4 linked regions of the Homo sapiens genome follow. The protein of the gene in region 4 interacts with the protein of the main gene of each other region in a pairwise test. Each region holds a gene or a part of one and is shown on either strand. Other genes may lie near its edges.

Region 1 (8,098 bases), on a different chromosome or scaffold from region 4:
TAATAATGTTGCTACTGAGCCCTTACCATGTGTTAAGCATTTTAGATGCACTCATTTACTTAACTCACAAAATAGTATTAACGATCAAAAGGAAACTGAAAAATTGCCGGTGAGATTAATTCTAGATGAAAGGGAAATGTACACTGAAATAGTCTTTTGCGTGGTGCTGCTGATGGGGTAGGGGATGGAGGCAAACCCATCTATATCTTTAAAATGGCGGTATGATATGGTTTGGGTCTGTGTCCCCACCAAATCTCATGTTGAATTGCAATCCCCAGGGTTGGAGGTGGGGCCTGGTGGGAGGTGACTGGATCACGGAAGCAGGGTTCTTGTGAATGGTTTAGCACAAACCCCCCGTGGTACTGTCCTTGGGATAGTAAGTTCTCATTCTCATGGCCGTTTAAAAGCATGTGGCACTTCCCCACTCACTCTCTTGCTCCTGCCATGTAAGAAGCTTGCTCTCCGTTCACCTTCTGCAGAAGCTGCTATACTCCCTGTACAGCCTGCAGAACCACACGTGAGCCAATTGAACTTCCTTTTTTTATCAATTACCCTGTCTCAGGTATTTCTTTATAGCAATGTGAGAATGTACTGATACATGCTATAATACACTTACCATTACATGTACCATTAGTGCATTTATTTAGTTCTTTCACAATATTGTACAACCTTCACCACTATAGGTTCTAGAACACTTATATTACCCTAAGAGGAAACCCCATATCTATTAAACAATCACTCTCCACTACCCCTAGCCTGGCCCCTGGTAACCGCTAATCTGAATTCTGTCTATATGGATTTATCTATTCTGGAAATTTCATATAAATGGATCATACAATGGTGTCTGGCTTCTTTTACTTAGTATAATGTTTTCCAGGTTCATCCAGGTTTGTAGCACGTATCTGTATTTCATTCCTTTTTATGGATAAATAATGTTTCACTGTCTGGATATACCACAATTTGTTTAACCGCTCCTCTACTGATGGCATTTGGGTCATTTCCACCTTTTGGCTATTGTAAATAGTGTTGTTATAAACATTCTCATATGAGTTTTTGTTTGAACATCTGTTTTCAGTTCTTTTGATTACATACTCAGGAGTAGAATTGCTAGGTCATATAGTAATTCTATGTTTAAGTTATTGAGAAACCAGCTCCAATATTTTAAAATTATTGTCTTCATGAAGCTTCTTGAAGATAACTATGTCTAATCCACCACTGAATGCTCAGGCACAGTACTCAGCCCATTGGAAAATAATTTGATTAACAGTATGAAAATCACTATGGGTCAAGGTCCAGTTTTCCCTGTGCCAACAGGTTGCTGACCCTTAGAAGAGCACAGAAGGTCAGGGGCTACCACTTACTTTTATTTATAGGATCTGCCATGGGAATTCCAATCCGGATACAGTTCGCAGCTTCTGGGCTCTCTGGCTGGGGGAGATCTTCACAGTTTGGCAGTTTCAGCCTCATCAGAATCATGGGATTTGATCTTGCAAAAATGTACTCTGTTTGACACAGGACATTCTCCAGGATTTCACATTCATCGCGACACAAGTCACGGGGCTTTGGGACGGATGAAGTTTCATCGCAGTACGGGAAGGCATAGTGGCACAGGGAAGGAATGGCGAACTGAGAACACTTATCAGATAAGTGACTGGAAGTGCCAATCATAGTGAAGGCAGCTGGAAAACAAACACAATTATTAACTCCCAGAGGCCAGGGTTTATCTTCTTTGGTTATCTAGTCAACGGATATCAGATATAAACACACATTGCAAGGAATCCGCCGTGCTGAAACAGACAAGGCCCAGAGAAGGAGATTCATTTCAGATGTCTAAGCAGCTTACTTTCACTGGCTTGAAAAAAACCATTTTGACTACAAAGTTAATAAAACAGGATTAAATTACATATGTACCATTTCCTAATAAAAAAATTAATTAAGTTAAAGTACAATATATTTTTCATTTTTTACTACAAAGCAATCGAACTTTGTGTTTCATCTGGTGCTTTTTATTAGTTTTGTGAGGCTTCTAAAACATTTGACAGCTGTAGGGACAGAACTTGTTTCCGCAGTGGCTGAGCCTGAGCACAGGATCCAGTTCTGTGTCTTGCTGGACGGCAAGAGTTGCTGGATGACTTAGGGTAACTTGCTTAATTTCTTTGTGGCTGGAATACTTTCTACTCCATCTTCTGAAAATGAGGCAACTCACTTGGAAGTTCTCAAAGAGCACAGTACAATTGTTCCAATGTGTATCATCGAATATTAGTGGTTCCTTAGCTTAATCTCTTACTAGTAGGGTAAGATGCACAAAAAGCGCACCAGCCTACCTTTGAATACCGCTATTGACAAGGAGCTTACACCTCACAAGGAAACCTAGGAGGTTGCTGATACATTATTTCCCCAAGTATGTTGCTCAGAACATTAATCATGTGAAATAGAATAGTGCTTGAGAAACAAGCCAACAAGTTTGGGAAACGCTGGGATAAACAAAGGTAAATGAATTTAAAAAAAAACTTTCCACCAGGCTGATACCCATTAGAAATCTCCAAGAGAGGATTTTTATAAATAGGTTACCAATTATTTACATCAAAACTTCCACTTTTTTTTTTTTTTTTTTTTTTTTTTTGAGACAGTCTCACTCTGTCGCCCAGGCTGGAGTGCAGGGTTACGCTCTCAGCTCAGTGCAACTTCTGCCTTCCAGTTTCAAGGGATTCTCATGCCTCAGCCTCCCACATAGCTGGGACTACAGGCATGTGCCACCACACCCAGCTGATATTTGTATTGTTTTTTAGTAGAGATGTGGTTTTGCTATGTAGGCCGGGCTGGTCTCGAACTCCTGGCCTCAAGTGATCTGCCCACCTCAGCTTCCCAAAGTGCTGGGATTACAGGAGTGAGCCACTGTGCCTGGCCCAAAATGTCTACTTGCTTTTGTGGATATTCAGTTAAAAGTACATTAAGGCATTCTTACATTAGGTTGAAATGGGTGTTTAACAGCTCCTCCCTGTCAGTCTTACTGCTCTTTGAAATTTCAGAATTCTCTTCCTGTTGAAATGAGGGCTTCAGAAAATGGCAACTACCTATTCCTACAGTTGCTTCTTTTGGTTGGTTAAAAAGTCCTCCAGGAGGCTGATGCAGGAGAATGGCATGAACCTAGGAAGCAGAGCTTGCAGTGAGCCGAGATCGCGCCACTGCATTCCAGCCTGGGTGACAGAGCGAGACTCCATCTCAAAAAAAAAAAAAAAAAGTCCTCCTCCCTCTTCCCCCCAGCCTCCTCTCAGTTCCTTCACATTCCTCATAGCACATAGCTTCCACATAGCTTCTGGGCCTTTTGCTGTTCTATGTTTCTGCCTTGGGTTTGTTCTTACCTCTCCTAGACCCTAGGGTTGCCAGATAAAGAAAAAGACAACGGTTACATTTTAATTTCAGATAAATATTTATGACATACTTATACTAAAAAATTATTCGTTGTTTATCTGAAATTCAAATGTTACTGGGTATCCTGAATTTTTATTTGCTAGATATGGCAACCTCATTAGAATGTCATGAAGACAATGTGAATGGATTGCAAAGGATACGTGACACAGAGGCATCATAACTACACTAATGGAAGGGGACAAAGCTGCTGTAACCACCAGAACGATGCGTGCAAAATCCTATGAGGCAGCCTATGCTACTTTAACTCATGTGTGCTAGTAAGTGCTTCGCTATTAGATTTCTATCAAAAGGATACTTTCAATTAAGAAAAATGAAGAGTGAAATATTGAAAGCTAGAGCAAGAAGAGACCAATGGTCATCTTGCTTCATCACTCATTTCACAGATGAAGAAGGGGACTTTTTGGGAAAGTAAGCGATTTCCCCAAAGTTCACTGTCATAATAGTTCTGGGATGAGTGTCCAGAACTCTAAACTCTAAATTCATCCCCTCTCAGTCGACATCATGTTGCTTCTAAACAGTAAGCTCTGTGAGGGCAGAGACGTACCTGGCTTATTTACACACCATCACCTCTCCCATTCAGATTCAGTTCCTGGTACGGTGAAAGCACTTAATAATATTTATTGAGTGTTTGAATGAATGTGAGATTTCACAAAGCTTCCTTTTCCTCTAAGAGCAACCTTCAATAAATTACTTTAATGTAAATTCCAGAGCACAGAGATCATGTCTCATGCTTTTTTATGGTCCTGCTCCCAACCTCCATGCTGAGCTTAATCCTTTGTCAAGAGAGGAGCTCAATAAAACTTTTGGCGAGAAAAATAGTTATTCAAGGGACAAATATAATTTCATTGGTGCTACCTACCTGTGATCTGATTTTCTATTTCCCCTTGCATGTGCAAAGACTCCATATAGACGGTGCGGTTGCCAATAAATCTTGCACATGCAATCCCTCTGTATGGCTGACAGAATCCATCTTCTTCATACTCATCTCTGAAAGAAAGCATAGACAGACATTAGCTGATGCACCACATACATACAGGGCACAGCAAGCTCTGACTGCGCGATACCCTAAATAGTCACTAGGGGGCACAGTTGGGCACAATATACAAAAGACTGGGCTAAGGAATTGGGCTTTTGCTCAGTTCTTAAAACATCTGTTGGTCACATTGGTCAAGTTTCCTACACCCCCAGAAAGTCATCCTGAAGCACAAAATCATCCTTAAATATGGGAGAAAATGCTTTTATTTTCGCAGCTGGTGGTGGGCTGGAAGATGATGTAGTTATAGGAGTAAAGAGGAAATGAGTTGGAAATCTGGGCACATGTTCTACAGTTTTTTGTTTTTTAAGCACAGATTATTTCTGCTTCATTTGCTACAAAGGCGTGGGCGAACAGATCCACTCCAACTGACACGTCAATTAGGGGGATCCATGGGGTGAGAAGCTGGGTGCAGCTGGAAAGAAACCCGAGGGTAGCCCAGTTAGGTGACTCTTCACTGCTGAACCTCCATTATCTCTACCCTGCCCAAAGAGGACCAGGGCAAACCATAGTCTGGAGAGTTTGAATTGAGTCACTAAATCCAAGGAAATCTAGAGAAAATGTCCATGGAAAGTTTGCTTTCATGCTTCTCTACAATTTAAAAAAATAGTCTTATTAAAATTTTGCGGCCTCAAAATTATAAGACTTTTTTTATAAGGAGGGGTAATAGATTTCATCTTGAAGACAGAGGGACACCAGAAATGACATGATTCATGTGCCAGGTAAAAGGACTGGAGATCTAAGGCTGGAGATGAAGACCCAAGATGGCAGGCTCAACCTGAAAGGGCAGAGGCTACCATCTCCCACGAGGGCCTACGATGAGCACAAGATCCCTCGAGTGCAGAACATCCAGCTGTTTCTCAAAGGCAGACCATAGCCAAACCAAAGTCTGCCTGCCACGTGTATAAGTTGACTTCAACCCTGGATGCTCCTCCTCAATATATCATCTCAAAAAAAAAAAAAAAAATACACCGTTTTTCCCCTTTGGTTTCTTCTAAGTAAAAATCCCTCAGAGCAAAGTCAGGAGAACAAAATTCTCTTCCTGAGTTTAACATTTGGGCATCCTTAGGCAAGCTGTCTGAGCCCTCTGAGCCACAATTTTCTCATCTACAAGTTGGACACAGTAACTGACTTCTCTGCCCTACATGGGAAAGTCATTATGATCCCATCAGATAATGTAAAAGCTTTTTTAAATTGTAGAGATAATATATGGCTATTCTTAAAGTATTTACAATGACCAAAGGGACATTTATTTAAAAGACAGTTATTTACTAAGCTCCCACATCGTAAGAGGCACTGCGGTTAGTGCTGTGGTGCTCACTTCCCAGCTTGAAGGTCTAGCGTAGGAGTCTAGAAAGTCAAAGTATAGGAGCAAACCAAGTGGAAAAATCACCTGATAGGACACTAATTTTCTGCTTCTCTCTACTCCCATTCATTAAAAGAATCATTTTAAAGGTGAAAGTGGGGGAAGTATCTTCAGTTTAGTACTGAAAATAGTTTGTGTTGCAAAGCTCTTAAAAACTTAACCTTTAAATACACATACAAATGAATATATCATATACCTGACATAAAGACATTGAAATTTTACTGTTGCACAATCCTGCAAGCACTCCACATGTTTACTTTCATAAATCCTAGAGTAATGCTGAAGCCTTTTTGGCTTAAATTTTACTTGGGTTGTAAAATTAACCCAACTTTTATTGGGTAACTAATACCATAAACCTATGGGGAGAAAGAAGGTTCTTGATGACCCACACTTGGATCTTGGAAACCTAAGTACAGAGACCAGAATACACCCCCATGCCACCCCCCTGCTATTACAGATGATGCTTTTCTATCCCTAGGCATTAGCAGAGCCCTGGATTTTTAAGGTGTCATTATGAGAACACTTCTTTCTCCCCCACATTAAACTCTCAAGGCTTCAATTTATATCTCTTGGGAGGACAAAACCCTGGAATTACCCCCAGATATAAATCCCCAACCTACTGGGAGTTCCCATATTTTATGTGTGAGGCTTAGGCTAAACTTCTTACCACCTTTCCAGTTCAAGACTCTTAAAAAGACTCTTTGAATACTTTTTTTCAGAATAAAATGGAATGCAATTCCTTGGCTGCACATTTCTTATCAAAGGCTTAGAACTGCAGGTGTATTAAATTTTTGACTATTCCCAGAATTCCTACTATCCTGTTCAGTCTCCTGGGAGACAGATTTTTTAAAAAAGAACACAAAAAAACCCCAAAACCAGTATGTACTGTTATCTGCTGGGGAGTGGTTCTGTCTTGGCTCCTTATGAGAATCGCCTTGGCAGCACACTGGGAGGCCGAGACGGGTGGATCATCTGAGGTCAGGAGTTCAAGACCAGCCTAGTCAACATGGTGAAACCCCATCTCTACTAAAAATACAAAAATTAGTTGGGTGTGGTGGCAGGTGCCTGTAATCCCAGCTAGTCAGGGGGCTGAGGTAGGAGAATCACTTGAACCCAGGAGGTGGAGGTTGCAGTGAGCCAAGATCATGCCACTTCACTCCAGCCTGGGTGACAGAGTGAGACTCCATCTCAAAAAAAAAAAAAAAAAAGAATGAAAGAATCTCCTTGAGAAGCTTTAGGAAATACGAATGCCCAGGCCCCACCTTAGACCTATTAAATCATAGTCTCTGGGGATGAGGCTTAGGTATCTATGCTTAAAGAAACCTATCAGGTGATTTGAATGTGGTTGAGAACCACAACACTGAAAAAAACCAAACATGTATTAAGTGTCTGCTGCTCTGGGCTGGGTACTGTGTTAGGTGCTTTCTTCAAAGCAGCCCCTGATGAGCTATTATCCTTATTTTACGAGAGAGAAACTCAAATTCAGAGAAGTTAAGTAACTTGCTCAAATTCACAAAGTCAGTCTGTGGTGGAGCTAGGATTTAAACTGAAACTCAAGATGAGGCCACTATCCCATGTTGTTAGATCTGTAACTATGTTCTGCGTTTCAATACTACTCTTAGTTAAATCAGCCTACTCGAGAAAGAGACCTTATAACGAGTCTTGATTCTGTATCAGATACTGCTAAGTTTTATATACTTACAAAACAGATACTAAGTCATTTTATCCCAACAACAATCTTATAAAAAAAGGTAAAGATGTAATTATTCCTGTTCTACAGATGAGAAAAGTGAGACTCAGAAAGCATAGAGAACTTATCCAAAGTTACGCAGCAAGTAGAAGAGCTAGATTTGCTCTAAATAGTGTTTCTAACCACACTCTATAACTTCTTTCCAAGTGGCTTGGCAATGGAGTTTTTGCACTGCTTAGAGGGGCTTTCTGCTGTGGAGAAGCTTTGGTGCATTCTGGGTGGTAAAAGGTTTTCTTTTAAACATAAAGTCAAAAACACATTTCTTTCTTTTCCATTTTTCCCCACTGGCTTTGGCTGGAGGGGAACAAATGCTCCTCCAGCATTAATCAGCTTTATGCTTTTTTCCAGCTCACACTTCTTTCATCATTGATGTCTTCCTGCCTTACTCCATGCTCAGCAAATTAAAAACATGAAGCAAGTGGCAAGGTAGCAAAAGTGCAAGGGCACTTGCAGTGAGCGTGCCCAAGGCTGCATTCAATGGAGAAGAAAAGTGCATTGTGAAAGGGCAAATGGAATT
Region 2 (8,098 bases), on a different chromosome or scaffold from region 4:
ATGTTTTGACGTGTTGCATATGAATAATGGGTACCTAGGGTTAAAGTCTGTGGAAAAGACGCACAGTCAGGCCGGGAGCAGTGGATCACACCTGTAATCCCAGCACTTTGGGAGGCCCAGGTGGGTGGATTGCTTGAGGTCAGGAGTTCGAGACCAGCCTGACCAACATGGTGAAATTCCCTCTCTACTAAATATACAAAAATTAGCCGTGCGTGGTGGTGGGAGCCTGTAATCCCAACTATTTGGGAGGCTGAGGCAGGAAAATTGCTTGCACCCAGGGAGCGGAGCTTACAGTGAGCCGAGATTGTGCCACTGCATCATAGCCTGGGCAACAGAGTGAGACTCCGTCTCAAAAAAAAAAAAAAAAAAAAGAAAGGAAGATGCACAATCAGACATAGATATTCAGGGGCTTGTCTCTCCATCCAAAAGAGTTTATTGATCCTCGTTAGCTGAGGTGGGTTCTTGACCAAGATATATTAGACCAAGTTTAAAAAAAAACCTTTAAGCTAATCCTGACTAGTGAGCTCGCTGGTTAAAAAAGAGGAATCCCGCTTGACCATGTATGGTAGATAAAAGAGCAGTTACACGCCAAAAACCTAACTAAAGCTTCTGGTAATCTAGGAGCCTGCACTCCTTGTGAAGATAGAGCTAGACACTTTCAAATAAGGATAGACCCATTTCATAGGGTCTTTCGCCTCCTTGTTCTTCTTTCTGCTTGAAGCCTGATCAGTCTATCCAGTTTAATGGTGCCTTAGAGAAAGCATGCAGTTAACTGAAATTCAGCTTTTAAACTGAAGATCATTTATCTATGGTGTCTTCATCATCTAGATTCATTGCTAGACTCAGAAGCTGAAAAAGATATTTTCTTATTCAGTCATAATAAAGCTATGTAAATATATAGATTGCACTTGCCCATCAGGCAAGAAGGCATTTCTTGGTTGAACTTTATTTTGGGCCTCTTCTTTGAGCTGGGATGCCGTTTTGCCCCCTACGCCCGCCCCGTCTAGGAGCCTCTTTTCCTGAGAATCTGTGTTTCTGTAAGGGCCCTTGTTGTTATGTAGACTAAGACTTGTTGGTCCTCTCTAGGAAGCTTTTATGTAAAGGGAGAAAGTTCACTGTTTTCACACCCAGTTAAATTGCCAAACTAAGATTACAGTTCAGTTCTTTTCCCCAGATCATAGTTATCAGATCATTCTTCTCTTAGAAAACATGGATGCGCCTTTTCTAAGATTCTCAGGATTCACATCATAAACGGGGACTAGAAATAAAGAAAGATCTTGTATATGTGAACGAATTTCTCTAAGCTCACACTTTCTTATTAATATTAGGATAGTGGTGAGACAAGGAAACCCAGTTCTATTGTTCTGCAGCATATTAGGTCACAGAGTACAGAGGAAGCTTTTAGCAGCTCCAGATAAAGGACCTCACGGAAGCCCGTGAAGCCAGTGGGACTCAGCTACTGATTAAACAGCAGCTTGTGAAACCGAGCCTCTCGTTTTAGATTAAACAAACAGACTTGTATTTTGAAAAAGATTTCTAAAGTAAAGGAAATGCTTTCTAAAGTATGAATTACTGTGTTTAACAGCCTCTGGGAAAATTATTTTCAACAGGCTTTCTATGCAAATTATTTTAGGATTTATAGCTATAAATCTTGAAATTTGATTTTGGTTGGGATTGCTGCAATTACTTTTACTTGGTGATATTTTGGGGTTAACTAAATATGCTCATTTGAACAGTAATAGGAAGTCCGTCTGCAGTTTTGTAGCTGATTAGCACTGAAGTTATCAAATCCTTACAGTTTTGCTGATAATCAGTGTGCTGAGTGTTCCTGCAAATTCTCTTAAAAATTTAGAGTCCTTGGGCCCTCTCTGGCCCCTGTGTATTGTGTCACTTAGATAACAGCTGTAGATATAATTTTAAAAAGACACTGTCATATAAATAAGGGACGTCCAGGGTTCTGAAACAGTAAACAAATGAGTCCTCAAAAAAGTTCTTGTAAATGGACATATAGAAATAATCCAACTTTTTCGTTTAGTTGAGAGTAAAATTCATGAACCAATCCTAGCTGGAACAGAGTGTTGTAGGAAGAGCTTGGGCTTTGTAGTGAGATCTGGGTGTGAAGCCTTGGCTGCCGCTGGAATAGCTTAAGGACCCTGGGTCAGTTACTCGACCTCTGGGCTTAGAACTCCATCATTAAAAAGGGTGGCAATGACAATATTTACCCAAAGGGTTGTGGGGGGCACAGTGGTGTACCCTCTCACACTAGATTGCTTCATTGTTTCAGATTTCTTTGTAAATTTGGTTATCATCAAATTGACTAATGGCAGGTGGTATGGCATCAAAGCAGGAGCTCAAAGTGGTAGCTGCGTAACATGGCATGTCTAGAATTTACTGGATTTAAAAAATCTTTGTTGCTCAAAATAACTTTTTTATGGTGGATGGAGATGCTTTAGAGAGAAATCTGGTTTATTTAAGTCTAAGCTGGTATTGTTACTACTTGAAATTCGTAGTGTTGGAGAACTATGCTGGAAATTTTTAGGATCATCTGGGTTAGTCTGCTTTTATGTAATAAACCTGTTTTTAAAGTGGAAGATGACTAAAGCTCTTGCATGTGAACAGATGCTGATTTTAATTTATTTAAAGGAATCATGAGCACTTGAAAGTTTTTCTTGATCTTAAACACAATTGTGTATTGTCATGAGGCATCCCTGATTAACCCAGGTTGTAGTAGAACAAGCCCAGAGCTGATGCTTTCTCTTAGAAACCAGAGAGATGAATGTGACTGACGTTTTTCTTTCTCCCTCTCATTTTTCTTTTTTTTAAGAGACAGGATCTTGCTCTGCTGCCCAGGCTAGAGTGCAGTGGTGCGATCATAGCTCACTGCAACCTCCAACTCCTGGCCTCAAGAGATCCTCCCATTTCAGCCTCCCAAAGTGCTGGGGTTATAGGCATGAGTCACTGCACCAGGCAAGACTTGGTTTATCTGTAAAACGGAGAGAATAGTTACAGTCTTGTGAAGGTCCAAACCTGTGTTGTCTAGTACAATAGCCACTAGCTCCCTGTGGATGCTTAAATGTAAACGTTTTAGAACGAAAGCTTCAGTTCTTCAGTGGCACTGGCCACAAGTTAAGGGCTTGATAACTGCAGGTGGCTGGTGGCTACGGCATTGGACAGCACAGAAGAGAACTTCCCATTATGGAAAAAGGTTCTGTGGGACAGGGCTGGTGTGAGGCAGGTACAGTGCCCAGTCCTTGGTTAGGACATGTAAGGCCAGCTGTGATTATAATTATGATCATGATCCTGATTCTTCGTGAACTCCCAAATCTAGGCCCATTACAAGGGTGAGGGAAGTGAGAAGAGGGCTTTGAAAAAAGAAAGAAGAAAAGACAAAATAATTGTGGAGTTTTTGCTGGTGAAGAGATGAGAACTGAGGTAGCACAACCTCAGCTCCCCACTGCAGAACAGAAGAAAGAGACTTCAGGGAAAAACAGTCTTGCTCTGTCACTCAGGCTGGAGTGCAATGGCACAATCACAGCTCACTGTAGCCTCAAACTCCCAGGCTCAAGCAATCCTCCTGCCTCAGCCTCCTGAGTAGGTGTGTGTCACCTACAGACACTTACCTGTAGGTGTGTGACTACAGGTGTGTGCCACCATGCCCACTTTATTTTTTTGTAGAGATGGTGATATGGTTTGGCTGTTTCCTCACCCAATTCTTATCTTGAATTGTAGTTCCCGTAATCCCCATATGTCGTGTGAGGAACCCCATGGGAGATAGTTGAATCATGGGGGTGGTTACCCCCATGCTATTCTTGTGATAGTGAATGAGTTCTCACAAGATCTGATGGTTTTGTAAGGACTTTTCCCCCTTTGCTTGGCACTTCTCTCTCCTGCTGCCATGTGACGAAGGACATGTTTGCTTCCCCTTCCACCGTGTTTATAAGTTTCCTGAGGCCTCCCCAGCCATGTGGAACTGTGAGTCAATTAAACCTCTTTCCTTGATAAATTACCCAGTCTTGAGCGATTCTTTATAGCACTGTAAGAATGGACTAATACAGCTGGCGTCTCACTGTGTTGCCCAGGCTGGTCTCAAATTCCTGGCCTCAAGTGATCCTCCTGCCTCAGTCTCCAAAAGTGGTAGGATTATAGGTGTGAGCCACCGCACCTGGCCCTTTCTCATTTAAAATCATGTGCTTTTATAGTCGACTAGCAGTGCTTTATTACTGTTTTAAAACTTTGTATTTACTAAAATGAGGGAAGGAATATTCTCGGAGGAGATGCTGGACAACCATCTCTGATCTAGAAGACTGCTCCCTCTAGGGATTTTAGATTCCATTATCAGCTTTTCTTTGAATCTTCTTATGAAGATACTGTTGCAGAAAACTGGGGAAGTTATGGTAAAATTAGCATGTCTGCAGAGCAAAATATTGGATTGATGTCTTTTAAAATTGTAGCAAGTGGCTAATTCGGAGCCCTGCCTTGGCATTACAATTGTTTGTCACAAAGAGCAGGCATATCAGAAAAGTAACCTCATTATTAAATTCTTTTTTTTTTTTTTGCAAAAGTTAGCTCAGTGCAGTGATTCCAAATGTCATTTATTGTATTGTGATTCAGGTGGGAAAAGTGAGCACTATTTATGCCAGATGTCTCAGGTACCCGCAGCCACAGCATTGATCAGTATCTTTCATTTTCTCTGCCTTTTTTTCCTTCCCCAACCACAAAAGAGTGACTCTGTATTCCTCTGCCCACCTGGGCCTTTGGTAGGAGGGGGTGGTGGTGGTAAACCTTCTGTTTAATTTTTGACAATTTGGTAGGTAGGTTTTGCATTTTATTATATGTGTTTTTTTAAAGTTTTTTTTTTTTTTTTTTGAGACAGGGTCTTGTTCTGTCACTCAGGCTGGAATGCAGTGGTGCAGTCATATTCACTGCAGTCTCTACTTCTTGGGCTAAAACGATCCTCCCACCTCAGCCTCCTGAATAGCTGGGACTACAGGTGGATACCACCATGCCTGACTGATGTAAAACATATTTTTTCTATAGAGATGGGATCTCACTATATTGCCCAGGCTGGTCTCAAACTCCTGGACTCAAGTGATCCTCCCACCTCAGCCTCCCAAAGTGCTGGGATTACAGGCATGAGCCACTGCACCTGGGTAGTTTTAATATTTTAAAAGGCTTGAGTTACCATCAGGTCAAATTAGGTGTGCAGGACCTTGTGCTATGGCTAAAGTAGCCCCTGTCTCCCTGCATCTGGTGAAGGGAGACGGTCGCATCGGGGTGTCTGCTGCAGCGCATCTGTTGTTGTTCCTGCCTCCACCCTCCACAGCACTTTTTTCAGAGCTAACTTGATCTGCCTATCGCTTGCAAAATATTCCATGCAAATTCCCATCTTCTGGCTCTCCATATATTCTCCCTGTTTGCAATTGCCTCTTTTCCTGCTTCTGTAAGTGCTGCCATCTTTTTATTTTTTTTAAAACCTCTTTGCGGACCCACCTTCCCTACTGAGTTATTGATCCTGGCCCAGCCCTTAGAGATTCCTTCCCTTGGTGAACTTGAGAGTGTATACCTGTGGAGCAAGATGTTTCATGGGGTGCCAGACGAAAACATTGGAACTGATGTTTATTCTCATTTCATCCTCTTAAAAGGTCAACTTATGTGATGTTTTAAGGTATAGAATGTGTGGTACACTAACACATTTTTTGATTTATAAATGACATGGGACGGAAAGAACATAAAATGTACTGCCTGGGTACAGTGGCTCATGCCTGTAATCCCAGCACGGTGGGAGGTCGAGGTGGGTGGATCACGTGAGGTCAGGAGTTCAAGACCAGCCTGGACAACACGGAGAAACCCCGTCTATACTAAAAAACACAAAAATTAGCTGGGTATGGTGGCACACTCCTAAAGTCTCAGCTACTCAGGAGGCTGAGGCAGGAGAGTCGCTTGAACCCAGGAGGCAGAGGTTGCAGTGAGCCGAGATCATGCCATTGCACACCAGCCTGGGCGACAGAGCGAGACTCAAAGAAAGAGAAAAAGAAAGAAGAAAGAAAGAGAAGAAAAAAAGAAAAGAAGGAAGGGAGGGCGGGAGAGAGGAGAGAGAAATTACTGCTGGCTGAAATCAAGAAAGGTTTGGTTTTGGGCCGGGTGCTGTGGCTCACACCTGTAATCTCAGCACTTTGGGAGGCCGAGGCGGGCGGGTCACGAGGTCAAGAGATTGAGACCATCCTGGCCAACATGGTGAAACCCCGTCTCTACTAAAAAGTCAGCTGAGTGTGGTGGCGGGCACTTATAGTCCCAGCTACTCAGGAGGCTGAGGTTGAACCCGGGAGGCGGAGGTTGCAGTGAGCTGAGATCGCACCACTGTGCCCAGGCCTAGTGACAGAGCAAGACTCCATCTCAAAAAAAGCAAAAAAAGAAAGGTTTGGTTTCATCATACCAGTCTACTACTTGCACTTAATAAATACCAAATACCACTTTATATCTTCATATCATTGGTTTTTTGTTTGTTTGTTTAAGAGACAAAGTCTTGCTCTGTTGCCCAGGCTGGAGTGCAGTGAACTGTCATGGTTTACTGCATCCCTGAACTCCTAGGCTCAAGCAGTCCTCCCATGTCAGCTCCTGAGTAGCTGGGACTATAGGCGCATGTAACCATGCTTGGCCAATTTTTACTTTTTGTAGAGATGGTCTACAAAAGTAAAGTTGCCATGTTGCCCAGGCTGGTCTCAAACTCCTGGCCTCAAGCAGTCCTCTGGCTTCGGCCTCCCACGGTGTTGGGATTATAGGTGTGAGCCACAGTGTCCGGCCTACATCATTGTTTAAGTCCTGTCTCTTTACCTAGTTTGCAAGGACCGTGTCTTATATCCTTGGGATAGCACATTTTTGGGATTGGTGTTTGGATGGTATGTCACAGGTTGTAGATGCTCTGTCAGCATTTGTAACTGAGGATGATGAAGATGATACTAGAGAACTAAGTTCTCCAAACCAGTACCTCAGTGTGTGTCTGTGTGTGTGTGTGTGCATGTGCGTGTGTTTGTGCGTGTGTGTGTGTGTTTGTGTCCGCGTGTGTGTGTGTGAAGGAGAGGGTATGAGCTGAAGCCTCTCATTCTCTTGCGGACTTGACTTCCCATGCAGCCACAGACCTTCACCTGGGATGAGGCCATTTATAGTTTTTTTTTTATTAAAACCTTTTTCTTTCACAACAATTTTAGATTTACAGAAACATTGCAAAGATAGTACAGAGTGTTCCTGTGTATCTTTTACCCAGTCCCTGTTGTTAACATCCTATATTAATGTAGTACATTTGTCACAACTAAGGAACAAGTATTAATATATTGCTATTAAATAAGTCCACAGCTTGTTCAGTTTCTTTAATATTTCTCTAGTGTCTTTTTTTCTCTTCCAGGAAACCACATTACATTTAGTAGTTATGCCCCTTGGGCTCCCCCAGTCCATTCCTTGTTTAGAGTGACCTGGACAGCTTTGAGGAGTACTGACTGGTCAGATATTTTGTAGAATGTCCCTCAACTGGGATTTGTCTGATGTTTTTCTCACGATTAGACTGGGGGTGTGGGTTTCTGGGAGGAAGACCACAGAGTTAAAGTGCCATTCTCATCACATCACATCAAGGGTGTGTGCACACAACATCACACAGCATGACTTGTCACTTGATCACCTGGCTGAGTAGTGTTTGTCAGCTTTCACCCTGTAAAGTTACTCTGTCCTCCCCTCCCCATGGTGTACGAGTGCAGGGTCAACACTTAATGAGTGGCAAGCTGTGCTCCACCTCTTTGCAAGGAAGTGTCTGTAGACATTCTTTGGAGTTCTGTTGAAGAGACTCGCGTATTCTCTTCTTTTCTTTTTTTCTTCCTCTTCCCCTTCCCTTTCCTTGACAGGTCTTGCTCTGTAGTCCAAACTGGAGTGCAGTAGCACAGTCATGACTCACTGCAGCCTTGAACTCCCGGGCCCATGCGATCCTCTGTTTATTTCTTTATTCAAGCATTTACTTATGTCAGTGTGGATGCATGGATATTTATTTTATACTTCGAGTTGATTCCACAGTGTTGTTTATTTGTTCTTACATTGTACCAGCTTTGGCCATCGA
Region 3 (8,098 bases), on a different chromosome or scaffold from region 4:
TCACAGCACTTGCTGCCAAGGCTGTGGACATGCACAGCGTGGTTCCTTCACACCCTGCCTCACCCACGTCCACACAGGGACCCCAGCCCCTCTCATCACTCATACACACAGGGACGCCACGTGTGTATATAGGGACACACACTCCTCATACCTGCAGGGCATAGCCTGTCAGCCCCAGGTATGCTGGAACCAGAGTGAGAGAACCTCCATCTAAAAGTTACATTCATTTAAAAGTTGCTCTTAAAGGTTTCTGGCATTTCATTGCTCAACACAGATACAGCTGTCCCCGTTGCTTGGATGAGGAAACTGAGTCTCAGCTTCTGGGGTTCCCCCCAGGTCCCAGGCTGACCCTGCACCTCAACCTCCCACAGCTCCTCAGCAAGCCTCTTGTCTCTTGTCTTCCTGGCCTGACTTCTTGGGTCCTGTTTTGCAGCAAGGAAGGACATTCCCTCTCTGCCCCTGGGCCCCGGGGCCTTCTGTTCCCAGCATGGAAGAGCTGGGCACTGTGACTTGGCAGGGCCCGGATCCAAGCTGCCAGACCACCCTCTGCAGAGGGCCTAGGCAGCCCACCCCTGCCTGAAGCACCAGGTATCAGCGCGGGCAGCTCAGGCCAGGGGTACAGCTCCCCCTGCTTCATCCTTTTCCTTCTCCCCTTTCTCTGGCCAGAGGCTTCACCAGGTTCACCTGGGCCTGGCTTGCTTCCTCCTCCACTCCAGCTCACTAACCCTGTCTGGCCTCCAGAAGCTGCCTGCAGCCCTCACTGGTGGGCTGTGCCTGCTGGGGGCCTGCAAGCAGAGAGCAAATGGGGAAGTGCATTGAGCTGATTCACTAAATTGCCTTTCTTCTGCAGAATCACTTTAGGGACAGGCTGAGGAAATCACTGTTTCCTTGGTGGTGTGAAGAAAATGGGATGCGATCACCTAGCGGGGAGCTAATAGCCTTTTAGCCAGTGGAGGAGAAAACCAATTAAAAATTATGATATCTGTTAAAATGGAACCTGGGGTGCCAAGGGGAAGGGAAGGCCCGGAAGCTGCCATCTCCCCTGAGACCTTCCCCCTCTGCAGCCTGGCCGAAGACCCTCTAGGTCCCCTCGTCTTAACTGGATAAGGCTAATACCAGCAGTAGCACCCCATGGGGGCTCACAGTGCACTGCCCCTGTGCTGTGCCTACTCACTTCATCTTTTCCAACAAGTCTGCAAGGGTCATGGTCTTGGCCCATTTCACAGGTGAGGAAACAGGTTCTCATAGCCTATGGACTCGAACCGGTAGAGAGGATGCGGGAGCTCCCCAGCCCTGGCCCTCTGGCTTGCTCCAGCCCGTTCTCTGGGCCAGTGGTGTGGGTCCAGGGTGGGGCTAAGGAGGGCTTCCAGGGAGGTTGCCCTGAGCCTGCCCACCCACTGGTGAGTCCCCCCACCTCGGGCTCCAGGTGCCCTCAGGACATCCCAGCCCAGATCCCAGAGTAATGTGTGGCACCATGCACAGACGCTGAGATACTCTCTGGGTCTCGTCAGCTTTAGTTGATGTCTGGGAGTCCTATGGGTCTGGGGAGGAGCACCAGGCATGGCTGTGCCAGCAGAAGGGCCGACTGTGTGTGCTCTGTGGATGGCAGGAAGGCATCTTGCTGCCAGTGGCGGTGCAGATGTTCGGCTGGGACACCAGGCTGTGGCCCTTGCAGCCAACATATGCCTGAGGCCCTGGCATCGGATGGAAGCTACTGCTCTGAAGACAAGGGTGCAGGGATGGGGTTTGGGCATCAGGGATGGGGGTACAGCTGTGTTTCCTCATGCAGGACAGGGCCTTCCTCCTCATTTTTCCCATCCTCCAGGACAGCCTGGGAGAAGAAAGCCAGGGAATAGGGGCAAAGCAGGGTGCAGCCCCCCATGCTCCCTGCTGCCCTCCTCCCCTCCTGCAGAGGCACTTCCTTTCCACTTCAGGAGCCCCTCCCCCAGAAGTGGGCCCCCCCCATCCCCCCTTCCTTCTTTGGAGGCTGCTTCCTGGTGCCAGGTTATGCTCCCTCCCCGTTCTCTGCTGTGCCCTCTATCTCCCCACTCCTCTGCAATTATTTTTCAGCAGAGTGACTTAATAGTAACAATAACAGTAACAATAATAGTAACAACAGCAGGCTGGGAGCACTCCTGAGGGAGCCTCGGCTCCTGCCCTGCTGCTCTAGGGCTGGGGACTCTCCAGAGCTGTCTCATGGCAGGGAGAGACCGTAGTCAAGGAGACCCTGTGTAGGGACTTCCGCATGCGTGTGTGGCAAGGGGCGGGGACTGGGCAGTGACCACCAGGCAGGGAGCACACCTCAGTCATGGTCACAGAGAAGGTGATGATGGCACCAGGGCTGTCTCTCCGTGCCCGTCTGCACCTGGGCCTGCCAGAGCCGTCTTCTGTGCCCCATGGGGTAGGGGAGCACCCCATGGCCCCTGGGAGGCTGCCAGTCAGTGGGACTATGAGGTCAAATGGGGAGGTCCCTTGGGGTCCATGACCCAGGCACTGCACCCCTTGGGGCTGGAAGGGGAGAAGGCCCCAGGCCCACCAGAGCCCCTCTGGCTCCCCCACTAGAACAGCAGCCAGGGCCGGCTCAGGGATTGAGGCGAAGCCTTGGTGCTTGATTCTTTGTCCCCTGAGGCAGGCTGTACCTCTCATAGGAGAACTTTGGAGGACGGGCCTTCTCCTGACCAAGGCTCTGGGACACTTGGCAGCCCCTGAGGTCCTGCTTTACCTCTCTGCTTTCTCCCCCCTTCTCTGAGCTCTGGGGCCAGGCCTGGGCACTTGGATTGGCGCTGAGACAATGAGGCCTGAACCTCCATGGAGCTCTGGTCCCGCAGCTGTGTGATCATGGGGGCCTCAGGGACCCCGCTCCCCTCCATTCCCCAAGCCTAGAGGCCATGAAGCCTGTGGGTCCCTGAACTGTCCACCCTGAGACTGCAGGCAGGGCAGGGCTGGGCAAGAGCAGGCAGCAAGCTGTCCTTGTTCCCACAGCTCCTCCTGGCTGGGCTCTTGGCCCCTGAAAAGCCTGGGGCAGGGAGATGGTGCCAGCAGGACCTTAAGGACAGCAGTTCAGGTCGCACCTGGCCCTGGAGGGAGCAGGTGGCCAGCTCCAAGCAAACACCTCTGTTTGCTTTTGCCTCAAGGAGTGGCTCCACAAAGTGTAGCAGCCCAGGCACCACCACAGAAAGGTCACCGCTGCACCTGGACAGGTGTGCGCCTACCTGGTGGACCAGCGGGCATAGGCTTTCCTCCCTGATATCAGGGATACCTGGAGGGCCTGGTGCTGGGGCTCTGTGCTCAGGGGAGAACCTGTGGCCCTACAGCCCCAGGTTCTAGACCCCCTCCCAGATTCGGGTGCTGCAGCTGCGCTTCCACTCCTGGCCCTTGCTCCTCTGTGCTGCTGCTCTCCATGCCCTGCAGGAGCCAGGGTTCCAAGGAAGCACCTGAGGGGCAGTGTGGCCCCAGGGCAGGAGCAGGACAGTGGCCACCAAGCTGTTTCCAGTTCCCTTGTGTGCCTGTGACTCCAGAGGATTCTCGCCCTTGTGTTCCTGAGAGGGAAAAAGGAAACATGTATTTCCTAGAATTTAAGTAATGACTGGGGAGATGTGTGCTCTGGGTGCCGGGACGAGGGTGGGTGAGCTGGAGGTGCAGCATGAGCTGGTGCAGTTCTGGAGGGAGGGAGAGGGCTCATTGGGTTTCTTCCTCATACTACTTGGCAGTGCAACTGGCACAGACCCGGCAGCTGTTGCTGGGCTAGGGGCCAGGGGCTTCCTCTTGCTCTGTTCCCCTTCCTGCTCCACCACCATTGCCTGTAGGGCGTCTGCCAGCCCCAGGAAGCCTAACACTTAGCCCAAGTGGGGCTCTGGGCCTGGCCCTCCTCACCCAGGGAAACAACGGGGCTCATGGGCGCTTGGTGACATGGGCACATTGCTCTGCCATCGTAAGGGGCCAGCCTGGCTATGGGACCCAGCACCGGTGGGCAGCCCACAGGTTGTCTCTGCAGGAGACTCCTCTGGCAGGTCACATACAGGATGCCCCACAGCACCTTGAAAACTCGTGACCCGGGAAAGCCTCAAATTGTCTTTGCTCCCCTAGCCTCCCCACCACCTGTATATGCAGGGGCATGTGAGACTGTACTTGGTGACAGGAATGCCCCCCAGTCTCAGGGGCTTAACGCCATCTACTATGTCCTTCTTGTGGCATAGCCTGGCATGGCCCTTACCCACTGGGTGGCCACACCTCCCAGCCCTTGTGCCTGGCTATGTGCACAGGAGGGCACAGAGCTTCAAGAAGCCTGAGGCTTAAGGAGCTTTGAGGCCTGGGAGGGGGCCACCGTCACTTTCCCTGTGTTCCGTGGGATCCTGTCACATGGTCGTTCTCACCCCAGGAGGCTTCAAGTACAGAGGACGCGGGGATGGGGGCACGCAGGGGTGTACCTGCACACACTTCTGCCTACCAGCTCTCCATCCCTTGTCCTGGTCCACATAGCAGGGGCTCCTGGCGGGCCCAGCAGCTGAGGGGGACAGAGGGGGAAACAGGGTAGCAAATAATTATGGTTTACTCTTTTTTAATTGTGAAATTTGTGTAACATAAGTTTAACCATTTATAAGTGAACCATTTGGTGGCATTTAGCACATTTACAGCATTGAACAGGCATTGCCTTAGTTCCAAAAAATTTGCATCACCCCAAAAGGAAACCCCATACCCATTAAACAGCTGCTTCCTGTCCCCGGGCAACCCCCAGCCTGCGTTCTGTCTCTGCGGCTTGGCCTGTCCTGGAACATTTCATCTGCATGGACTGTTGTCTGGCTTCACTCAGCATAAGGTCTTCAGGGTTCCTCTAGGCTGTGGCACACATCAGCCCCTTCCTGTGAGGGGTAAATAGTGTGCCGTCACCCATTCATCTGGGGATGGACACGTGGGTGCTTTCCACCTTTTGGCAGTTATGAAAAATGCTGCCAGGGACATTCCTGTTATAAATACCTGAGTTCGTGCTTTCAGTTCTTTTGGGTACATACCTGGACATGAAATCGCTAGGTAATTCTGTTTTATATTTTGTGGAGCCGCCAAACTGTTTTCCACAGTGGTTGAATTGTGTTACATTCCCAAGGGTTACAATCTATCCACATTCTCACCACCACGCATTATTCTCTGTTATTCTCTGGTTCATGTCTCACTCTGGCCGTGCAGCCAGTGCACAGTGCTAGCTCGTTGTGGCTTTGGTTTGCCTTTCCCCGGTGATGGCGTGCTGGGCATCTTTTCCTGTGCATGCTGGCCAGTTGCATGTCTCTTTGGAGAAGCATCTCTTCGAGCCCTCTGCCTGTTGTCTAACTAGATGGCTGTCTTGCCATACAGCTGACTTTGCTGTTGCATCTGCATCAAGAGCTGCAGAGAAGCAGCTTTATCCAGGGCCGTCACTGTCAGTGATTGAGCCCCAGGTCCCTTGTGAGGAGAGTGTGGATTCGTCTGATTCCTCACATGGGCATTGAATCACCACTGCCCTCGAGGACCTTGAGGACATTCTCGGAAGACCTGGACTCTGAGGCCACGTTGAGCACCAACATCTGGAAACCATGGTGTCACTGCTTGTGCATAAGAAGGGGCCTCTCAGGAACCGCCCTGTGAAGGATGGAGGAAGGGGAAGGTGCAAGGAGCCAGCAGACCCCCACCCCACTGACAAGACGAGACTCAGCAGCAGGGGAACCAGGGCCGCCCTCTCTCGCTCATCCTGAACCCTGACTCTAAAAATAACCAGGCTGATAATCGGATCCGCTGTAAGTTGATTATCATCATTGCCGTGGTGTGATGTCATGCTGCCAGGCCCTGGGGCAGTTTTCTCAGGACAGCGGTGGATGCACCTAGGCAGCTCTGGAGGCCAGCATGGAGCTGGGGGGCCCTGAACCGAGGGTGGCAGGCAGCCTCTGTGGGCTCCTGCAAATCTGCTTGGTGGGGGTGGAACACTGGCATCCATAGGCAGGCACTCTGTGCTCCCAAGGAGGAGTTCCTGTCCCCATTCGCAGCTAGGGACAGAGCCAGGGAAGCCAAGTGCCCAGCCCTGGCAAACAGCGGGGAAGCACAGGGGCATGGGCTGGGCCGCTCTGCCCTGCGTTTCTGCTCCTTCCTGCTGCTGAACTCTCTCCTTTCTGCTGCTGAACTCTCTCCTTTGGACTAGGCCTTTGTCTTCTTGCCTCATCGTCAGTGGCCTGGGAGGACACTTGCAGTCTTAATCCTGTTTTGGCCCCATGTCCCTCACCCCCCAGGGGCCACCTAGGCCAGAGCCTGTCCTGATTTCCATCTCGGCCACCGTCTGCCCCTCGGCCCCTGGTCAGGAGCTCATTCTGTGGATACTCCTGCATAGACATCACGTGGACTCAAAGGGCATGAGGACCTCGGCTGAGAGGAGCTTACACATCAGTGCAAACCTCTCATTTTACACAGGGAGAAATCGAGGCCCTGAGGGAGGCGTGAGTTGTCACACATGGGGGTAGTGTCAGATGAAGACTTGGCACCACTTCCCTGGGCATCCCCTTCCCTGCATGGCATCCCCAGCCTTGGGTTTGGATTCTTCTTCACCCTTGATGTTGAGGTCTTTGCTCCCAGGACCTGGATAACAGCATCCAGATGCAGGTGGTGCCCCCGCATCGGGCTGCCTGGCTGTGACCTGGGGCATCAGGATTGTCAGCTTGTCTGGCCCCAGGTCTGTGCTGGGCTGAAACCTACTGTCTCAGAGGCTCCTGGCTCTCTCCCTCTGCTCTCCACTGCTCTTAAGAGCAGACCCTCAAGCCTTTTTTGTGTCCTCTCTCCAGGGAGAGCCCAGCTTCTACTCTGCAGCCCAATGCAGAAGGGGTGGTAGCTCACGGTGCCTCGGCTTCTCTGCATGCCTGTCACTGAACAGAGAAGCCCAGGCCAGACTGCAGCTTAATTCCTAGCCTCTGTGTGGCCTCCAGCAGGGTACCTAAGCTAGTGCTGCCTCATTTTCCTCCTGTGTGAGATGGGAATCCTCATGGTCCCTACCTCTGACAGTTGTTTTGATGCAGTGGGTGATGCAGATGAAGCGCCCGGAGCAGACCTGCTCATGAGGAGCACACCGTGGATTCCTACTGGTTAATGTTGAACAGGGATGAGAAGGGGCTGGGGTAGGGCGAAAATGGGCAAGACCATCTCAGCTTGAGGAACATGAGCTGACAGATTGACTTAAATTTGCACATGGACATGATCTGAGTCACTGCCTTGCTGAGTGCATGGGGACAGTTGCCCAGGCCAGAGGCACCAGGGTCAAAGCCAGTGGTGATGCCCTGGCCCCGTTGCCCCAGGCCAGGGCCAGTGAACAATGTAATCAGCTGGGGCAGACTCTACAGCCCTGCAGCCAAGGGGGCCAGTGACCCTTACATGGTCATCCACAGGCCACTTGGGTGGCCAGTCCTGTTCAGCCAGGCCTTGCCCTAGGAAAGAAATTAATTATAACCTAATTGGCAGTTTCCTTTGCATAGAAGCCGGAAGCAACTGCCAGTGAGGCTGGTGATTAACTCTGCAGCAGCTGGGAAATTGCAGTTGGGCAGGAGCGCCCATCATCCTGGCCAGGCCGCTGCAGCTGGTCTGGGTATGGAAGTGTGGGTGGTGGCCATCGTGCAGCTTAGGGCCTGGGCCCCTCAGAGCAGAAGGCTGGGTCTGTGTGCAGAAGGTAGCCTTGGGCTGCCAGGTCCCCCAGTGCCCAGTTGCGGACCTCCTTCTCCCAAACCTCAGCCATGCCTGGACCCCTTCCCCACTCACGGCAGAAGGCTGCATGGCTTTTAGGGGTGTCAGGAGGCTCATGTCCTGGTTGCAGTTCTACCATGGGTGTGCAGCGGGAATTCTGGGCTTCTGTTTTCTGGCATGGGATGGGGTGAATGATATCTCTGTTCTACAGCAGGGGCTCAGACTGGATGTGTGAGAAGAGCCTCAGTTAAGGAGGGCCATGTTCGTGCGTGCAGGGATCGTGGTGCCTCCCAGGCCAGGGCCGGGCCCCATCTCTCCTCCTCCTCAGCTGCTCTTCCAGCTACTGGCCACCCTGCCTGGCTGGAGGTCCAAGAGGAGAGGTATCTGAGGAGATCCTGCACTCCACACCGGG
Region 4 (8,098 bases):
ACTTTTCTCTCAGAACAGAGGCTGACTTCATAAAGAAGGGAAATGAATTCTATACATTCAGGCCTCTTTAACTGTAAAGCTAATTGATCCATTTTGGTTACGCCCAGGGTATCAGCAACTGCTTTATGCTGGTGGAACTGATGACACCTTATAATGCTTTAGAGATGGGAGGAATGTGCTAACGGGATGTAAGTGTTCTTTTTAGCTATATTAGGAACTGTTGCCTTCAATATAACCATGCCTGTAATGATAAGTAGCAAACTGCTTGCAACTTGAGTGCCATCTCCCATTATTTTGCTTATGGTTGCCTAAGACACCATCGGGGGGAAAAAGAAGATTATGACTCGCATTCTGGCTAGGGAGAAGTACTGTGGTCTATAATAGCTGTGGGAGAAAAATGAGGAGTGGGTACCATGCTGTGTAAGTGGCATCTCTGGGTAAATTAACACTAAAGGATTACTAAGCATGGTTCTTGTTAGAGAAGCTGGACACTACTCTACCCATGGCAGCCGATTTTTATAGATCACCTAACAAGGAAGTTGTGGTTATTGTCCATCCAACTGCTTATTTTACAGGTGAGAAAATGAAGATCTAGAGTATTAAAGTGGTAGTTAATAGCATAGTCGGGATAAAAGCCCAGGTTTCCAGACCCGTGGTTGCATACTATATAAAATTATACACTGGTTCTACAATAGGTGAGGCCACCATTGATTAAGTTAGTGGTGCAAAATACTTTTTACCTAACTGTCCTTATTCTTTACTCTTTCGTGAACCAGTTTAATATATAAACTCCAGTTGAAAATACCACTTCAGGAATATTCAAGGAGGCAATTAAAAGCCACCACAATAATACGAATGGTAAAAAAATATTATGTGGAAGATCCACAGAGCTTATTTTCTTCAGCATTTCTCCTCTTCCTTTGTCCAAAGAAGCATATTCCATTTGAGGAGATATTATTTATAGTGTTGTATTTTAGTTGCAAAAGAGTACATTTTTGAGATATATTAAAAATTCTCATGTGAAAGCTTTCTTTTTCCTAGGGAATGTTTTGCTAACAAAATACAGAAACTGATTTCAATCCATTGCTTTCTCTTTGAGTTCTGGAAAAGGTTCTTTCAAATTTCTGTGTTGTTCTTGCTATCAGCCTTTTTGAATGGCACAAAGACTGCCTTCAATGTATCTCCTGAAACTATCTCTTCACTCTCAGAGAAGTGCATAGTCAATTTCCTTAGACTCTAAGAAGAAAGGTATTCTATGATAGTACCAAGAAGATCTGGGAGGTGATTTGCAGAAGTACCACCCTCAAAAGAAAGGATAGACTAACAGGTAAATGATATATTTTAAGATTTTAAGATGTTCCTTAGAACTCCAGAATTTGTTTTTCCTATTGAAAATCTCTCAGAGAAGTGCATAGTCAATTTCTCTAGTCTCTGAGAAGAAAGGTATTCTATGATGGTGCCAAGAAGATCTGGGAGATGATTTGCAGAAGTACCACCCTCAAAAGAAACGATAGACTAACAGGTAAATGATATATTTTAAGATTTTAAGATGTTCCTTAGAACTCCAGAATTTGTTTTTCCTATTGAAAATCACTCAATATAGACCTTACAATGGTCTAGAGTCTCTCTCCACATTATTTCTATGATATTATCTCTCACTACTTTCTTCTTTTTTTACCTCTCTCCAGCCATATTTATCCTTCTGTTTCTAGAAGATGCCAGGCACTCACCCTTTCATACTGTTTTGCTTTTTTCTTTCTCCAGGTGTCTCCACAGCTTAATCCCACAATAATTTTAGAACTTTAATTAAATATTACCTTGTTAATGAGGTTATTCTATTTCATATTTCATTTTCCCTTCCCCCCATCACCCAGATAAAAATTCTAGCACCCTTTCCCTGCCTAACTTTTCTTTCCCCAGAGGTCTTCACCACCCAACATACAATATATTTTACTTTTTTTATTGTAGTTTCCCCTCTCTGTATTAAAATGTAAGCCCATTTAGGGCACATATTTTTGCCTGTTTTGTTTATTATTGCATGTATTAGAGGTCTTGGGCTACCTAGTACCTGGGGGCAGTTCCTGACATAAAATCTTTCTAAAGATTAAATAAATAAGTTAAATAAATAATGTAATACAGTGATATTTCTGGTCTCTTCTTTTTGCATTTAATATCTTCTTAACACCCACAAAAAACACACATAGTCCACTTAGCCACTTCTGGAATGGACTTAAACAGCTCATTTGTCCAAAACTCATGTTGCCTCACATGCCCCCAAAACACACTATCTCTAACAGATTTTGCTGTCATTGTGAACTGAAGGGCAATAAAGGATGGGTTTGTGTTAGACCAGAACTACTAATCAACTCAGTGAAAAAAGTCTTTCAAACTGATTGCCAGATATTGTGCAGCCCAAATTCTTTGCTGATTGGCTACATTTTCACTTCTCAGTGAAATGCCTTGTACATGTAGGAATGGCTACAGGGATCAGCTGATTTACAAACAGAGAGTCTAATACACTAGAAAAAACTGATTTGCTTCTTTGGTACTTAAGAGACACAGGAATATGTATATTGGAGATGACATATTTCTAGCACCTCCAATAGAATAGCACCTCACATATTCCATTGAAAATCACATCCTACCTAACACCTTGTAAAAATTCTGGGATGCATTATGCACATTCAGCCTTTTCTTCTTTATTTCTCACCTACTTCTCTATCAGCTTCCGTCCTCATCCTATCATCCTATGGTTGAACATAATTAAAGAGGTTATTGTAATGTATGTTCTTGTTATCAATGCATTTCTATAGTACTTATATATTTTGACCCCTTTCTGAATTTTAAAATTTTTCCTCACTTGACTTCCACAGACAGTCATTACTTCCTAGCTTCCCTCTTATTTCTCCAGCCATTTCTCAATTTGTACTTTTAGGTCTTCTGCTGTGTATTATTTAATGGTTAGTGCTCTCTACAGCTTGTCATTGATTTTTTGTTATTTTTCTCTGTATACAATCTCCCTGGATAATTATACTCAGACTTGCACGTCAAAGATTCCAAAATCCACATTTCCATCTCAGTTATCTCCCCTGAACTCTGGTTCTATATTTAAAATTACCTAGAAGTCATTGTATATTCCATAGTAATCTTTTTGTTTTTGTTGTTGTTGTTGTTGCTGTTGTTGTTGTTAGAGACAGGGCCTCACTCTGTTGCCCAAGCTTGAGTGCAGTGGTGCAATCATGGCTCCCTGCAGCCTCGACCTCCTGGGCTCAAGCAGTCCTCCTGCCTCAACCTCAGAGAGTGCTGGGATTACAGGTGTGAGCCACAGTACCTGGCCCCACAATAATCTTATATACAACTATTTTTACTCAACACTTCTCAACACAATTACTCTGATAAATATTCCCTAACATTGTGAATAACACCAGGATTCTTCACAATGACCCAGGTCTGAAACAAATAATTGATCCTAGATCATCCCTTTGCTACTTTCATCTTAAAGGTTTCAAACTCTTCTCATAAGATGTTCTCCACTCTCCATGATCATGTCACTGCCTTGAGACAGATCCTTATTTCTCACATAATATCTTGTGATGACCTCCTATCAAATTTATTCTTTATAATAATGTCGGAGGTGAAACTCTTAAAAGCATACCTGATCATATTCTTTCTCCAAAAAATTCTTTAATACAGCTATCTCCTTTTCTTTTAGAATAAACTCCAAACTCATTAGGAAGGCAGTCTTTTGCGATGAGGTCTTCTCATCTTGCCCTCCTTTGCACACTAATATCACACTAAGACAAAATTTCCTTTGGTTTGCCATGTCTTGAATCATTTCACATACTGTTCTATTTCTCTTAAATACCAATACTCTGCTCCTTTTTTTAGATGACTCTTTCTCCAACTTCAAATGTTGATCAGGCATAGCCCACTTTGAGAATCTTCTTTTTTTTGGATGACTCACCTCATTCAAGTAGCTCTCCTACATTTCCCTTTTCAATCCTGTATATTCCCCTGTCAATGTACTTAACCTGTATACTGAAGTTTTTTGAGAACAATAACACAATTGCAGCTTTATTTCTATATACTTATTCCCTAGAACTATGCTTGTTACCTAATATGGCATCAGTAAGTGTTCAATGAATGAATACATATATTAAATATATTTGTTAAAATGAATTGTGATAAATTAATTTACATTGACCAAGAGATTATATCTCATCTTCATGACCATAAAGAAGGTAATTGACTTTACTACTGCCACCTTAGTGCAATTTACACTTATTGACAACAAGGAAATGGAGATGGGACAGAAAATTTTCTATGTAAATACACTCCATAAGATAAGTTTGTGTCCCATGGGCATGATGCTATTTGTAGTGTACTTGTGTGCTGAACTCTTTCTAGATGGATAGACATTCTTGCATGATTTTCCAGTACTACTTAAGAATAGAATGAGATTTTTTTTTTACTTTAAAGAGCTCAAAGAGTTAGATAAACAACATAGCATGATAGTTGTCCACTACAGAATGGACCCGGAACTCCTAACCCTGATTACTGATTGGTTATTATCTACCTATAGCAAATACAAGACATTTACACATTCAAAATCAGGTGGGAGTGTGAGACAGTGGCTTCAATAAATCAAGACCAAAAATTATTCAACCCTCCTTTTCTCTCTGAATTAAAAACCAAATCATCACACAAAATGTCTGAATATTTGAGTGGTTGTATACATTTTTTCTCTCATTTTGTGTGTATACAGTCTTTATAGAACCATAAAGTTTTTGGATCCCACATATTTTTTCTCATAGAAGACATTCTTACACCTGAAGAATGGAGACTATTTTGTGAATTATTTAAAAATCGCTTTATGTGAGATGATCAGATCACAAATCAAAAGCCCATTCATTGCCATTAGTATTAGAGATAACACGGATGTTATATTTTATGGCAAGTTTATTGTTAAATCTTAAAAGTTGTTCTGTGAGTCAAATTCAAAAGCTAGTGAAAGCCATTTTTTCCTTTAAAAGGGGATTTGAAAGATTCTACTTGGCCCATGAGTGCATTTTTCATCTTCAAGGCATTTACAAATGCTGACACACTTAGAGTAGCATTGATGTTTCCCAACATAAAGGATGTTAGTAGTTTCGAAAAATAAAGATGTAATGCTAAAATATTATTTTAAGATCAAATTTCCTAATGCTTATGTACCATATAATGTAACTATAAGTGCCTACTATAGTAATGATATTTGCCACAAAAGGACAATTAGCAAATTTATATTATAAACATTAGCACTTTCCACTTAAATCATTTTTATTCATAATGACTGCATAAACTTTCCTCATAATCAAATCTCATTTGATTTTAATATATTAAGATGTTGATGTCCATTAAAATTGCAGCCACATGGACCAACAACAAAGCAAAACTATTATTTATATTATGCAGCAGTCTAGAACTTAGCAAATGCCAAGTTCATTGGGGACATGAATTATTTTTTCCTATTTCTATTTTATTTTTTATTTCCTTTTTTTCAGATCTAAAGCAATGTCCATTTTCTGACTTAAATGAGAAGACTGGCCTCAGGCAGTCCTAAACTACTGATTCTTTGGAAAGGAGCATTTAATGAGCACAGAGTAAAAGCATCTCACAGTGATTCACTGGACTGTACAGCAATATGTACAGAGCAAGACTCTACAGCTATTTCACTGTACTAATGATCCAATTCCTGAGGCATACTGGAGAGAAAAGGAAGCAATAAATGCACAGAATCAGTTCACCACTGGGTGACTTTCACTTATCTGGGAAAAATGATCAAACATAATATCATAGTGAGTTAGTTAGGTTGAAAGACCATCAATCCATTAATGTAAATGTATGGCTTTCAATCATAAGCAATTTAGTTTCTTTGTCTTCTTGATTCAAGGTGGTATTTTTAAAATTCTCCCTGAAGAAAATAAAGTAGCTTAAACAGAAGAAAGGAGAAAATTTAAACAAGGGGAAATGTCATGTTTCTAGATAACTTTTTAGCAGAATTCCATAGTAGTTGAGAGTTAAGTGGGATAATATATCCAAACTTGCAGTCTTAGAGAGTGTCATAGAAGTGTTAGGCATTACGTGATTAGACTAAGGAGATGATAAATGGTTAATTGTACCTTGGAGGAATTTCTTATTCTTTTTATGTTTATGCCAATACTGGGTAAGCATACACACCTAGATACATTCTGGATTCTGAGTGGTTTTTTTTTTTTTTTTTCAGTTGAGCCTTTTCTTGATAGTTTTCATCTGTATGCTATAGGCAGGAGCCTGACCATATGTGCAGGTTTGTAGTGGACTATGAAGCTCGAAAATATCTACCTCCCTGCAGATATCTCTCCCAATGCCTTTTCTAAAAGTTTCATCTAAACATGAATTCTAGCATCATGTCTTCAGCAAGTTCTACTTAAATGAATGTGAAATAAAAATTTCTCTTGGATATGCCTGATTGTGACTGAAAATGTGTAACATTTACATAAACATCATAAATCTGAAGTGCCTAGTTCCTACTGCACTGCCTTGCTTAGCAGGCAGTCTAGACTTGTCCTAGGATACATCTTCCTAATTAATCCCTCTAGGGACCCACAAAGGGTGAAAAGCTCAAGCATGGACGAGGGATGCTGCTCATAGGTCTATAGGCTTCCCATCTGTTGTCTACTCCTCTGGCCATCCTTCTTCTCTACTGACCAACTGATACTATCCTATTTACCATTTGTAGCCCATGGAATTTCTAGACCATTGGGCTGTAGGTCCATGTGGAAGGCTGCCTGTGGTTCTGCAGACACCAGCCAAGACAGGGGTGTTTGAATGTAAAGGGATAGAAGGAGGGGCATGGGTATGGGAAGAACATAATGGAAAAGGTCACATGCAGCCACAACCTATTCATTGAACTACTCACCACTCCCCTAAAACCCAGGCTACTCAGCTGACCCTGCTTTTCCAGGACTCTTCTCGCTGCTGATTTTACCTCAGGTGACCTATTATTTATAGCTTCAGTTTGACTCCCTTGGAGACCCATAGTTCACAAGAAAACTCAGAATTCAGTTATAGAAACTTTTTCATGATGCTTCACTTCTCTATGCAAATCCAGAGACACATCTGGCAGCTCTTTCAGTGCCTCTGAAAATTTCATGACATTTAAGAAGCTCACTAGGGCAATTCACATGAGTCCTCACAAGCCTGGTCCCCTTGGGCATTTGGGCATGTCTCTTGGCATTGCTGGGAACCTCTGTACCTCTAGAGCATCAGGATTTCCCATCAGGCATTCATTGGTTACTTTTGATTGTTTTATTTCCTCAAACTGGGAATGCCTGATATTTAGAGGGCTTAAATTATAAATTTTATCATGTTATTTGTAACTCCTAAATCTGAGCATTAACTGAAGCTACAGAAACATAATAAAAAGTCTTCCTCTCAAGACAAGCATTGAATTTCATATGGAAAAGACAAATAGATTTCCTTTTAAGACAGGAAGGAGATAACAAATGAGTATTTCCTAAATCCCTTTGATGTGCTAAACTCTACCCAAGGTGCTTTTGTAAGATAATTGCCTTACCTTTTAGGATTGAAAAATGTTTTGAAATGGCATGCTTATACTTCAGAAACAACAAAAATATGCCTTAACTCATGTAGTACAATAAAAACAAACAAACAAAAAAACATTTGGGCTCTAGGATTTGACTACCTGAGTTCGAATCCCATCTTCTCCCATTTAAAAAGCTAATGTATAAGACCCTGCAGCATGGAACCTGGAACACTGAATATATTCTATATTCAATACTAGTAGTTGTAGGAGTTGTATTAACATGTGAAAACTTTCATTGGTCCTGTATTTCCTATAGCTGCAATATAAGACCAATGAAAAGAAAATATAAAAAGAAAAATGGTGCACATTGACTATTGACCTATTAAAAAAAATCACTCTAAAACCTTCATTTGTGAAGAGTACATGCTATGAAGATCAAATAAGCATGTCCCAATTTTTAAAATACTAGTAAAACCTTCGTCTTATAAATTTTTAAATGCTCATAATTAGCAAGTTCATGTTGAAGAAACT

Evidence for each region.
Region 1: the proteins of PTPRR (region 4) and ROR1 interact in a two-hybrid assay, tested with the Homo sapiens proteins (one study listed by BioGRID and IntAct).
Region 2: the proteins of PTPRR (region 4) and LMTK2 interact in a two-hybrid assay, tested with the Homo sapiens proteins (one study listed by BioGRID and IntAct).
Region 3: the proteins of PTPRR (region 4) and RET interact in a two-hybrid assay, tested with the Homo sapiens proteins (one study listed by BioGRID and IntAct).

Annotation. Positions count from the first base shown.
Region 1 is NC_000001.11:64,133,690-64,141,787, reverse strand, and holds part of ROR1 (inactive tyrosine-protein kinase transmembrane receptor ROR1 isoform 1 precursor), read right to left. Parts: intron 4,420-8,098; coding exon 4,292-4,419; intron 1,680-4,291; coding exon 1,362-1,679; intron 1-1,361. UniProt on the Homo sapiens protein: Has very low kinase activity in vitro and is unlikely to function as a tyrosine kinase in vivo. Receptor for ligand WNT5A which activate downstream NFkB signaling pathway and may result in the inhibition of WNT3A-mediated signaling.
Region 2 is NC_000007.14:98,109,393-98,117,490, forward strand, and holds part of LMTK2 (serine/threonine-protein kinase LMTK2 precursor), read left to right. Parts: intron 1-8,098. UniProt on the Homo sapiens protein: Phosphorylates PPP1C, phosphorylase b and CFTR.
Region 3 is NC_000010.11:43,079,227-43,087,324, forward strand, and holds part of RET (proto-oncogene tyrosine-protein kinase receptor Ret isoform a precursor), read left to right. Parts: intron 1-8,098. UniProt on the Homo sapiens protein: Receptor tyrosine-protein kinase involved in numerous cellular mechanisms including cell proliferation, neuronal navigation, cell migration, and cell differentiation in response to glia cell line-derived growth family factors (GDNF, NRTN, ARTN, PSPN and GDF15).
Region 4 is NC_000012.12:70,909,915-70,918,012, reverse strand, and holds part of PTPRR (receptor-type tyrosine-protein phosphatase R isoform 1 precursor), read left to right. Parts: intron 1-8,098. UniProt on the Homo sapiens protein: Sequesters mitogen-activated protein kinases (MAPKs) such as MAPK1, MAPK3 and MAPK14 in the cytoplasm in an inactive form.